Regions from separate parts of the Homo sapiens genome. Here region 2 is linked to region 1. The links come from fine-mapping of genetic effects on gene expression. A gene starts in region 1. The other region holds a variant in brackets. All regions are shown on one strand. Distances are from middle to middle. Region 1 holds the start of DTNB (dystrobrevin beta). Region 2 overlaps DTNB (dystrobrevin beta).

Region 1 (5,374 bases):
ATGTGGTGTGGACAGAAACTACATAGGTTTGAGGAGCTGAGGAGCTGCTGAGGAGGTAGAGATGAGGGTAGATGACTTTCAAGATATTTATGAAGGAAAACTCAGAGAGGGACTAGTAACTGAAGCAGAATCTAGAGGGACAGCGAAAGGGTTTCTTCCTTTTTCTTGAGGACAGGAAAAGCTTAAACATGAATAGATGATGAAGGAAAGAGACAAGTAAAGAGAAGTTGGTAATTTTGGAGTGAGAGGGGGAGAATGATTGAAAGGTGTTTGAAAAGTTTTCTGAGGATGTGGGAGGTGAAGAAATAGAGAACAGAGATGGAGAGATGCCAATACAGTGTCCTTGAAGTATTTAATTCCCTTATGGTTTAGGATTGTCTAGTCCACATATTGAAATTACCTTGGTTTCAATCAATAAACCGAACATATCAAGCGATATTTACACATTTATTTTATATTATTTACACATCTTTTCTCCAAAGAACAGAATCAATGTTTTACCCCTCTCAATGCCTTCCACATAGGGGGTGCTCAAAAAGGGCAAATAAAGAAGCTAGAGGTCTCTTACCTGTATTCTGAGTATCTTAATATGTACAAAACATAGCCAAGACCGTGCCTACAAGAGATAAGTCTCCTCAAGCATGAAAATATTCACACACTTCATATATGTAAGGTAAAAGGTAAAATGTCCATCTTTATTTATTTATTTTGAGACGGAGTCTCACTCTCTTGCCCAGACTTGGAGTACAGTGGTGCGATCTCGACTCACTGCAACCTCTGCCTCCTAGGTTCAGGCGATTCTCCTGCCTCAGCCTCCCAAGTAGCTGGGATTACGGCGTACACCACCACGCCCGGCTAATTTTTGTATTTTTAGTAGAGACAGAGTTTCGCCATGTTGGCCAGGCTGGTCTCGAACCCCTGACCTCAAGTGATCCGTCTGCCTCAGCCTCCCAAAGTGCTGGGATTACAGGCGTGAGCCTCCGCGGCAGGCCAGAAAATGCTCATCTTTTGAGGAACCTATTTGTTCCCATTTAACAAAGTTGGTTATCAGCATTTCCTTCACCATAGGAGTTTAAAAATAAAAAGAGGAGAGGAGGAGGAAGAGGGTGTTCTAAAGGCAGGCAGGCAGGCAGGCAGGCAGCAGCAGGAGGTGGCACGATCTGCCTTACCGTAAGGTGCCAAAAAGCAGTGAAAACCATACTCCCAGCATGCAGGCCTGGGGTCGCTTAGCTCTGGAGCTTACAGCCTTCATCATTGACCAATAGCCCCCAAAGGACGTTGCTGTTTTGAGTCTTAAGTAACGTTGAGAATGACCATTTGAACCATTCAAAAAGTCCTTGCTATATTCTAATTTGGCACCATCTCCTGTATTTCACAGTTTGGAAAGAATTCTATAAAAGATGGATAACAGTAAAACACAAAAAAGCTGGTGCTGAGATGGTAAACCTGGCTGCCCCGGCTCCTTTGCCCAAACTGTTTTCCCAGCCCTAATGTCCTCCCTTTTTCCTCCTAGGACTTCTTTTTCTTCCTTCGAGGTTGACCATAAATGCCGCCTCTAGCCCTCTGCGGCGTCCAAGCAGAAGTCGTCTCTAGCTTCTGTGCCAGCATCGCACCGTGGCTTGGCTCTGCACGGGTCATCGGACTTGGTTGTGTACATGGCTGTTTTCCCCGCTAAGTTTGGGGCGCCTCGAGCCCAGGCGCCGTGACCGTGATCGTGCGCCCACAGGCACCTGGTGCAGCGCGGGGCGCACGCCGCGGCTGGGCTAGCTTGCGGAGTTCACGGGGGTCACTCGGGCACAGGCTTGTGACCCAGGCGCGGAGAATGATTCACGGGGTGGCTCTTTGCATTCTTTGTCGGGTAGTCACGTCGGGCCGGGCACCCCGCCGACGGATACCTGCGGATGGAAAGACACCCGGCCCGACGCCAGCGAGCGGGAGAAGCCTGGATGGAGCCAGCTTCCCGCCTGCCCGGAACCCGCCGGCGACCGGTGGGCGGGGCGCGGCCGCGGGGGCGGGGTGGAGGGGGGTTGCTCGGCCGCTCCCGCCCCCTCCCCGCGCGCGGAAGCCACGCCCCCGGCCGCGCGCTCGCGCTGGGCGCGCGCCCGCCCATCCGCCCTCCGCCCTCCGCCCTCGCGCCCTCGCGCCGGGGGCGGGCGCTGCGCGTGCCGGGCGGAGAAGCGGCGCGAGCCGGGCGCTGCGAACGTTCGCCGCGGGGGTGGCTCCGGGGCCTGAGTAGGCGCTGCCGCTGCCTCAGCCGAGGGGGCTGGGCCGGAGCGTGCGGAGGAGTGAGGCCGCAGGAGACCTTCCCGACGACCCCTGCTCCGGCGGGGAAGTGAGCAAGGTGGGGGTCTGCGGCCGCCGCCGGGGCTGTGGGGAGACGAGCTGGGCTGGAGCCTCGCGCCCGCGAGGTGCGGGACGGCAGCTCGCGCTGCGCCGGGACTGGGGACCCGGGAGCCTGCGGGTGCGGCGCTGCAGGAGTCGGGGAGGGCGCGGGGAGCCGGGGCCGCTGCACCGCGCGCGGCTGCGAGGTGGGACGGCGCGGCTAGCCCCGGAGGGACAGGCAGAGGGGATGCGGCGGATCCCGGGCCGGGAGGGGTATCGGGGTCCGGAACGCGCCGGGGCACGGGCGCGAGCGGGGGCCCGGCGCCGGGCTGATGCTGCCCGAGCCCGGCTCGCCTGGAGGCGGCTCTGCGTTAGGTGCTGAAGGGGCGAGTGAGGCAGGTCCTGGCAGAGGGCAGGTGAGGCGGGCAGGCCCTGGCAGAGGGAAGGGTATTTATTTCAGATCACCCCAAATCACTGTTTCCCGAGGCGCCTAATAGCGAACCTGTCCAGGAGGTCACCCTGGACAGGAAAGAAGTGTCCCGAGACGAGGATGCCGGTGACGAATACTTGCCCTTAAATTCCTGTGCCAGGCCTTGGGATTAGGAAGACCTTCCAGCTACCGTAGGTAGAGACCCGTAGTCAGCACTGGGGCCACGAAATAGTATGGAACACCGTCATGTTATTGAGGTGCTGACAGTGTGGCTGTGAAGATATGCACATGAAATACAAAGGAGCGTCGAATTTTATGTCGCATGCCCTATTTACTTTCGGTCTCTTTTGTCTTTTCCCAGTATTGGGAAATTGGAGCCATAAATTGCGTGGTTTTGGGGATAAAGCAGAAAGGTCAAAAGAAGCCTATGGGAGAAATTTGGGAGAGTTTTGAAGGCTCCTACGGGTAACATTTAAAGGGGGCTCTTAGATGGGGAAAAAAGACGTTTGGAAAGAAAGGAAGTTTCCTTCCTTCCCATCTAGAAATAAGCTCCATGACTATTGACTGCTAAATCTTCAGAATGTTGCCTGGCTCACAGCGGTTGAGCCATAAGTGTCTATTGCATGAATGAATGGACAAGCAAGGTTTGGCCACATTTGCCATGGAGCAGTGTCAGTCACTCTAGTGTTAGGGAAGGTTGCTGGATTTCTCCTGTTCCACAAGTTCTCTCTCTCTGCCTCTTTTTTTTTTTTTTTTTTTTTTTTTTTTTTTGCTATGCGAGGCAACCCCGGTTCTGAGGTCTGGGCACGTTAAAGCAATGGCTAAGGCGGCGAGGTCTTGGTTTCTGTGGCCATGCTACCACTTTCCCATGTGTCTTTCATGTTGGCCTTCAAGAGCTTGCTCCTTGGCCTGTTGCTTGAGATCATCCCATTTTGTTCCTTCTCCCATTGGCTTTTTCTATTACTTGAGAAGGAAGAGGGTAGTGTTGTCTAGAGAACACTTTTTCATTTTGGTCCTGGTTCTTGGGTCTTAGACCTGTAGTGCGAGGCTGTTGGTGCCTCTGCTTTTCTGTAAGGGCTGGAATTCTACCTGTGCTCTGCCTTGGTTGAATCTCTGAACTCTGGAGCTCCAGGCTGCTGTTTCAGTAACCTGGGTTGCAGTGCCTGTTGGGTTACTTTGTCTGCCAAATTAAAACTTGACCTTTTATGAGTTCTCTAAGGATTTTTATCATGCATAAGTGGAATTGCCTTTGAAAGGGGTTGTGCAGTCAAGGTAGTGCTGGCAGAGTTTTTGGATGTCCACTATGCCCGAGAGACAAATTTCTACCTATGGTTAGAAAATTAGACTCAGAACCAAGAGAATTTCAACTTATTGTTTATTTTATGTCTTTATGTTACTCTCTCAGGGCCTTAGTTTCTTCGTGTGAAAAATAAGTAATAATCAAAATCTGGCATTGTATAGGAAGCCTTGAAGAAGTAAATTTATTTCTCCTGTTTCAGGGCTGTACAGCCAGCAGGTCTCTTGTTGAGAGGTGCCTAGGTTCTACAATATTGGGTGCCTTATTCCAGGCTCTCTCAATGATATTTTGTTTATGTATTTATTTTAAAACCAACTTTTTGACGTATAGTTGACAAAATAAAATGCACAGATTTCCCGTGTGCGGTTGGATGAGTTTTGGAAAAATGTGTACAGTAGTCCCCCCATTAGCCTCAGGGATATGTTCCAAGAGCACCAGTGGATGCCTGAAGCCACAGTTAATTCCAAACCCTATATAGACTGTTTTTTCCCTATACTTAAGTATCTATGATAAAGTTTTAACTTATAAATTAGTTGCCATGAGAGATTAATGACTTCTCTTAGGCATATGTTTGGCTTCTCTGTGGCATATCCCAATTGCCAGCATCACTACTCTTGCACTTTATTATTAAGTAAAACAGTGGTCACTTGAACACAAGCACTGTGATACCATGACAGTCAATCTGATCATTGAGACAGCTACTAAGTGAGTAACCAGAAGGTGGCTTATGCAGTGTGGATATGCTGGAGAAAGGGATAGTTCATATCCCAGGTGGGACAGAGTGGGATGGCACAAAATTTCGTCACGCTATTCAGAATGGTACACAACTTAAAACTTACAAATTGTTTATTTCTGAGGGGAGACTGCTGTATACTTTGTAACCACCATTCCAATCAAGAAATTTCCATCACCCCAGAATGTTCCCTTATGCTGGTTTGCAGTCCATTCTCTATCTTCCCTACTCCCTTTTATTGATTTCGAATTACACGAGCATCAGAGCTGTGGCACCTAGTTGTGTAGATTGTATTCTGCCCAGCTTTAGGGAGCACCATTCACATTGGAGTCCTTGTGCCTGGCAGCTGCTGGAGTTGTGTAGTGCACACTCTGTGTGACTGTGTGCTGCAACTCTGCAGGTGGCTCAGAACACACACTCACTTGTCAGATACTCAAACAGTACAGACAGAATAAAGGCCCCCTTGACCTACTCACGGAAACAAGTTATCAGTTTTTGTGGTCTTTCCAGACTATTCTCTATGTATTTTCATGTATATATAGGGAACACAAACTCATCTGATACTCAAAACAGTATAGACAGAATAAAGGCC
Region 2 (5,374 bases), 54 kb after region 1:
CATGCCTGTAATCCCAGCACTTTGGGAGGCTGAGACAGGCGGATCACCTGAGGTCGGGAGTTCAAGACCAGCCTGACTAACATGGAGAAACCCCATCTCTACTAAAAAAAAAAAAAAAAAAAAAAAAAAATTAGCCAGGCATGGTGGTGGTGCATGCCTGTAATCCTAGGGAGGCTGAGGCAGGAGAATCGCTTGAACCCGGGAGGCGGAAGTTGCGGTGAGCTGAGATCACACCACTGCACTTCAGCCTGGGCAATAAGAGCAAAACTCCGTCTCAAAAAAAAAAAAAAAAAGTTGATTTAGCAGTTTAATTTGAATCCATTTAAAAAGTTATATTGTTCCCCCTTAATACTGAATGTTTAAAACAAAACAATACAAAACAAAGCAGAAACAAACCAGTCCATTTCAAATAAAAGCAAATGTCTTCCATAAATTCTTAATCTGCCCAGCCTAGCATGTTATGGAATGGATGTTGCTGATAAAAGATAATATTAGGTTACAGTCTTCTTCATTAGTGATTTTTAAACAAAACTGTAATTTCCTGGGAGGCACAGACATTTCATATGTTGGTGTACAGTATTTATTTACATCCCTGCTTGTTTTTAGAAGGATTCAGGATCATAAGAAAAAAGCCAGCCAAGTAAGATCAGAGTCCTATGCTGAGTGGGAAGATTTTCCACCGTTGTAGCACATTTAAATTTTCTTTTTTTTAAGAGACAAGGTCTTGCTCTGCTGCCCAGGCTGGAGTGCAGTGGCATGATCATAGCTCACTGCAACTTTGAACTCCTGGGCTCAAGCAGTTCTCCTGCTTCAGCCTCCGGAGTGGCTGGGACTGTTGGGTGCGTGCCATCATGCCTGGCTATTTTCTTTTGCTTTTTAAAATTTCAGAGCTGTTTCTCAGTGTGAACAGGCTATTTATTTTATTTTTTATTTTTTGTAGAGACAGGGTTTTGCTTTGTTGCCCAGAGTGGTCTTGAACTCTTGGCTTCAAGGGATTCTCCAGCCTCGGCCTTCCAGAGTCTTGGCTTACAAGCATGAGCCACCACACCTGGCCATCCATCACTTACTTACTCTTTATCTTGTAGCTTTTCTTCCAACAGAAGTCATGAGTTTGTGCTAATTTACAAATAAGAATCTTCTGAATTCAGAATATGCAGACTTGCAAAGGGTTTTACCATTAACTAATCTTTCAGAAAATTTTTTTTGTTTATTCTTTTGTGCTTTTCATTTATTTTTTTAAAAGAAAGGGCAGGAGGAATGCTTTATTCTGAGTGTGTTTCTTTTTCCTTGCCTTTGTTTTCTTCTGAAACAGAGAGAAGTAGTAACAAGTCCAGAGAGACTTCTCCTGTCCATTCAGTACCTCACTTCGAAATTAATCTGATCAAGACACTGTTTCATCATGTAACTTCCCACTTCAGAAACCTTCAGAGAATCCCTGTGGTTTTGAATTAAGCTCACACTCCTCCGTTGGTTTAATGATAACACTGCTTACCTCCCTGCCCACACCAACCTCTAATTACGCTCCTGGAGACGCTCTTCTTTTCCAATATGACATGCTCATTTTCCCCAGACAGATGCCATGCGTTTTGTTCCCCCTCAGCTCCCACATCTGTCTGGGATTACCCAGTCTCCTTTTGTTCTGTCCAAATCTTTTCTATTTCTGAGAATTCAACCCAGATTTTTTTTTTATTATTTTTTTTGAGACAGAGTCTCACTCTGTCGCCCAGGCTGGAGTGCAGTGGCGCGATCTCAGCTCACTGCAACCTCCGCCTCCCGGGTTCAAGTGATTCTTCTGCCTCAGCCTCCTGAGTAGCTGGGATTACAGGTGTGTACCACCACGCCTGGCTAATTTTTGTATTTTTAGTAGAGATGGGGTTTCACCATGTTGGTCAGGCTGGTCTCAAACTCCTGACCTCCTGATCTGCCCACCTCGGCCTCTCAAAGTGCTAGGATTACAGGCTTGAGCCACTGCACCCGGCCTCAACCCAAGTTTTTACCTA[C/G]CATGTAGCCTGCCTTATTATCACCAATCCCATTTTCATCCTTTTGATGACTTACAGTTCTTGTTTATATTATTATTTTGGCCTTTAATTACATAAGGTTGTAAACTGCTTCATAAGTGTTCAAAATGGAATGGATGTCCGTGAGAGCAGAGATTCTGCTTTATATTTCTTTCATTCCTCAATTAGTATAATGCTAGATTATTTATAAATGTTTATAAGATTGAAATGAAAAGCAGCAGGCATTCTGATTGTGATAAAATTGAATAATATTCTAAGTTGATTTTACTTGATTAAAGCTGTTTGACATTTGCCAAATGGATTCTTGATTTGCAGTTGATTATTGCAACATCCATTCACTGTGAAGTTTTGTAAATTAAGATTAATTGGCAGAATGCGAGTTTTTGAAAATCAAAGAGAGATGCTCTTATTACGTTTAGCTACATATGATAATCGGACTGGTAATAGTGTTTCTGAAGTTGAAGTTTGTTTCCGTGTGAGAAATTTGTGGTTGGCAGCATCCACAATCATTTGCTAAAGAGATAGAAACAGCTTGTGTTAAGTACAAAATACTACCCGTAGTCTTGTTTTCAAAAGTATTAATTTGAATAGCAAACTCCTACTAGATAGTGTAAAGCTAGAAACGTCATCCAGATTTGGTTAGTTTTAAATATTGAAAGACAGAATTTGAGACCTTATTGAACTGAAACGAATGATTTCCCATCCACAGGGAACAGGTGGGGACTTCAGAGGCTTCAGAAGGTACCTGCATGTTAAAACATAACAGCGTTTATTCAGGGTGACTCATTGTCTGCTTAGCTTGGCACAGAGCTAATAATGGTGTTTTCTCAGTGTTGGATAATAACTCTTTTTAGAAGTCATATGCATAGTTTATTGTCAGACTGTAAAATGATAGGGCTATGGAAATGAATCATGCAGAGAAGGCTGAGAAAGGGATCATCATGTCCCTTACTGAAGGAGGACATTCCCTGGAGGGCTTCTATTTGAGTGGGGTTAAAATCACAAGTTTCTTCTGTCTTATCATCTCAACAAATATTACCTGTTTATCTTTTCATCTTAGTGTCTTGATAGAGGGGTTCGTATTCACTGTTAATGGCGTTATATTTCAAATGTTGACCTACCAATCAACTCTGTAGCTATCATAGGCCAGATTTGAAGTGAGTAACATTATTTGTGATGAAACCAGGTTAAATATCATTTCCAAATCTTGTTTGAAGAGAATTGATTCTGGTATAAACTTGGACTTTACATTGGAAGTAGTGAAAACATGGACATTGGTGAGGACATGTGCTGTGGCCACTGGCAGCTAATTATTCAGTTTCAACTTGACCAGTGTATACAGAATAATTTCAGATGTCTCGTGGGAAGGATCAAGAATGAGTTCTTCCAAGAAGAAGGAATCAGTTAGATAAAGAACAAAGTCGGGCGGTATCAGGGTGCTGAGGAGCTGCAGTTTTCTCTCTGCTTGCCTCTAGTTGTAGAGGAAGAATGCTGGGGCTCTAAAGAAACATTAGAAAAGCAAAAGTAATGCTTCCTCTTGGCCTTGTTTAGAGGCAGTTGTAGGAAGTTAGGCTTAAAGTAGACTGAGGGGTTTCAGTGCCAAGAAAAGCATTCTGTGCAGAGGAGTCACTGCTGATGTTTGGCCTGCAAAGCAAACAATTGAGAGAAAAGAGCTAAGTTTTTTTTCTTTTTGAAGGGAAAAATATAAGTAACGTGATTTGTGGAAGTAAGGATGTTGAGACTACCCCTTCATTAATTTTATCGGATAACTATTTCTTTATGCCAAGTTATACTGGAATTTTAAAGTAGGTATCTTTAATAAGTTTCTTTTTAAATTTTTTATTGAGACAGGGTCTTGCTCTGTTGCCCATGCCAAAGAGCAGTGGCGTGATCTTGGCTCACTGCAACCTCCACCTCATGGGTTCAAGCGATTCTCCTACCTCAGCCTCCCATGTAGCTGGAACTACAGGCGCGTATCACCACACCTGGCTAATTTTTGTATTTTTATTAATACAGTTTGAGGCTGGTCTCAAACTCTTGGTCTCAAGTGATCCACCTGCATTAGCCTCCCAAAGTGCTGGGATTGCAGGCGTGAACCACGACGCCTGGCTTCTTTAATAAGTTTCTATAACTGTATTTAAATATACAATTATAACTTTTGTGTATATTTTTGTTTATATTAATATTTCCTTTTGAAGAGTGTATAAACCTTTTGATAGCACTAACTGTGAACCTAAAGTGGTAAATGAAAAGTGATTTGAATGGGGAAGAAGGGTTAATAATTAACACCTCGAGCCCACTGCCCCATTCTCAGGATGCATACTTAACTTATGAATGTATTCTTAAACATAAAGGTTCACTAAGTATTTTCGCCAAATCTCTCCTGTCTGTAAATTCATCCCGCTCACATTTACTATGATCCTTAATCTCAGATTCCTCTACTTTTACCTGAACTTAAAACTCCTTCCACTGTGCTTATACAGTCTGTTTATCCTGTTGAGTTACAGATTGACACTTTGGTGCATATCCCCTGACCCTTAATAAAGCCTGTGATGTTAAGCACGCATACATTTGTTCACCTGAAAGTGCATACAGGTGGAGGGAAGAGAAGATTCGTAGTTTGTTGGGTGGGAGATTATGTGTGGAGATTTCTACGTGGCTGTTGTGAATAAGAAAAATGGTTAAACAGTGGATCTCAGAGATGGTATGTTAAGGGACCACACATTACTGGCAATACTTAATTGAGGGGTTAATGAGTCTTTTTTTTCCTTTTTTTTTTTTTTTTTTTTTGAGACGGGGTCTTGCTCTGTCGCCCAGGCTGGAGTGCAGTGGCGCGATCTCGGCTCACTGCAAGCTCCGCCTCCTGGGTTCACGCCATTCTCCTGCCTCAGCCTCCTGAGTAGCTGGGACTACAGGCCCCTGCCACCACGCCCGGCTAATTTTTTGTATTTTTAGTAGAGATGGGGTTTCACCGTGTTAGCCAGGATGGTCTCGATCTCTTGACCTCGTGATCCACCAGCTTTGGCCTCCCAAAGTGCTGGGATTAGAGGCATGAGCCACTGCGCCCGGCCAAGTCTTTTTTTTTTTTTTTACTATAAATAGCCTGATCTAGATTATTCTGTAAATTAACAGATTCTTTCATCGGAGACCAGCCATTGAGACTAATAATAATCTTAATGAATGGAAAAATACAAGTGTTTTAGTGCTGATCCAGGTTAATTGAGAATTATATCTGTTATTCTGTATTTGAATATGAGAGTCTCTGAATCTAGGACTAATATTTACAACAGGGTTGAGTCAAAGGATATTTTGAATAAGGATGCAAAGTGTTGTAAAATATTAGTGTTTCTAAAAAC

Evidence for each region. PIP is the estimated chance that this variant, and not a neighbour inherited with it, causes the effect. A credible set is the group of variants that fine-mapping cannot tell apart.
Region 2: its variant is the best candidate, but not a certain one, in a credible set for the expression of DTNB in whole blood (TOPMed, PIP 0.62).

Annotation. Positions count from the first base shown.
Region 1 is chr2:25,670,353-25,675,726 of GRCh38, reverse strand. DTNB (dystrobrevin beta) reads left to right here and starts at 2,150. Exons shown (of 21, transcript NM_021907.5): 1 at 2,150-2,341. RefSeq lists silencers at 2,113-2,407, 1,772-2,701.
Region 2 is chr2:25,616,366-25,621,739 of GRCh38, reverse strand. The region is part of intron 4 of DTNB (dystrobrevin beta); the gene reads left to right. Among named protein-coding and RNA genes, the nearest start is that of DTNB, 55 kb to the left of the region's middle. The variant C/G (reference allele first, on the strand shown) is at 2,001.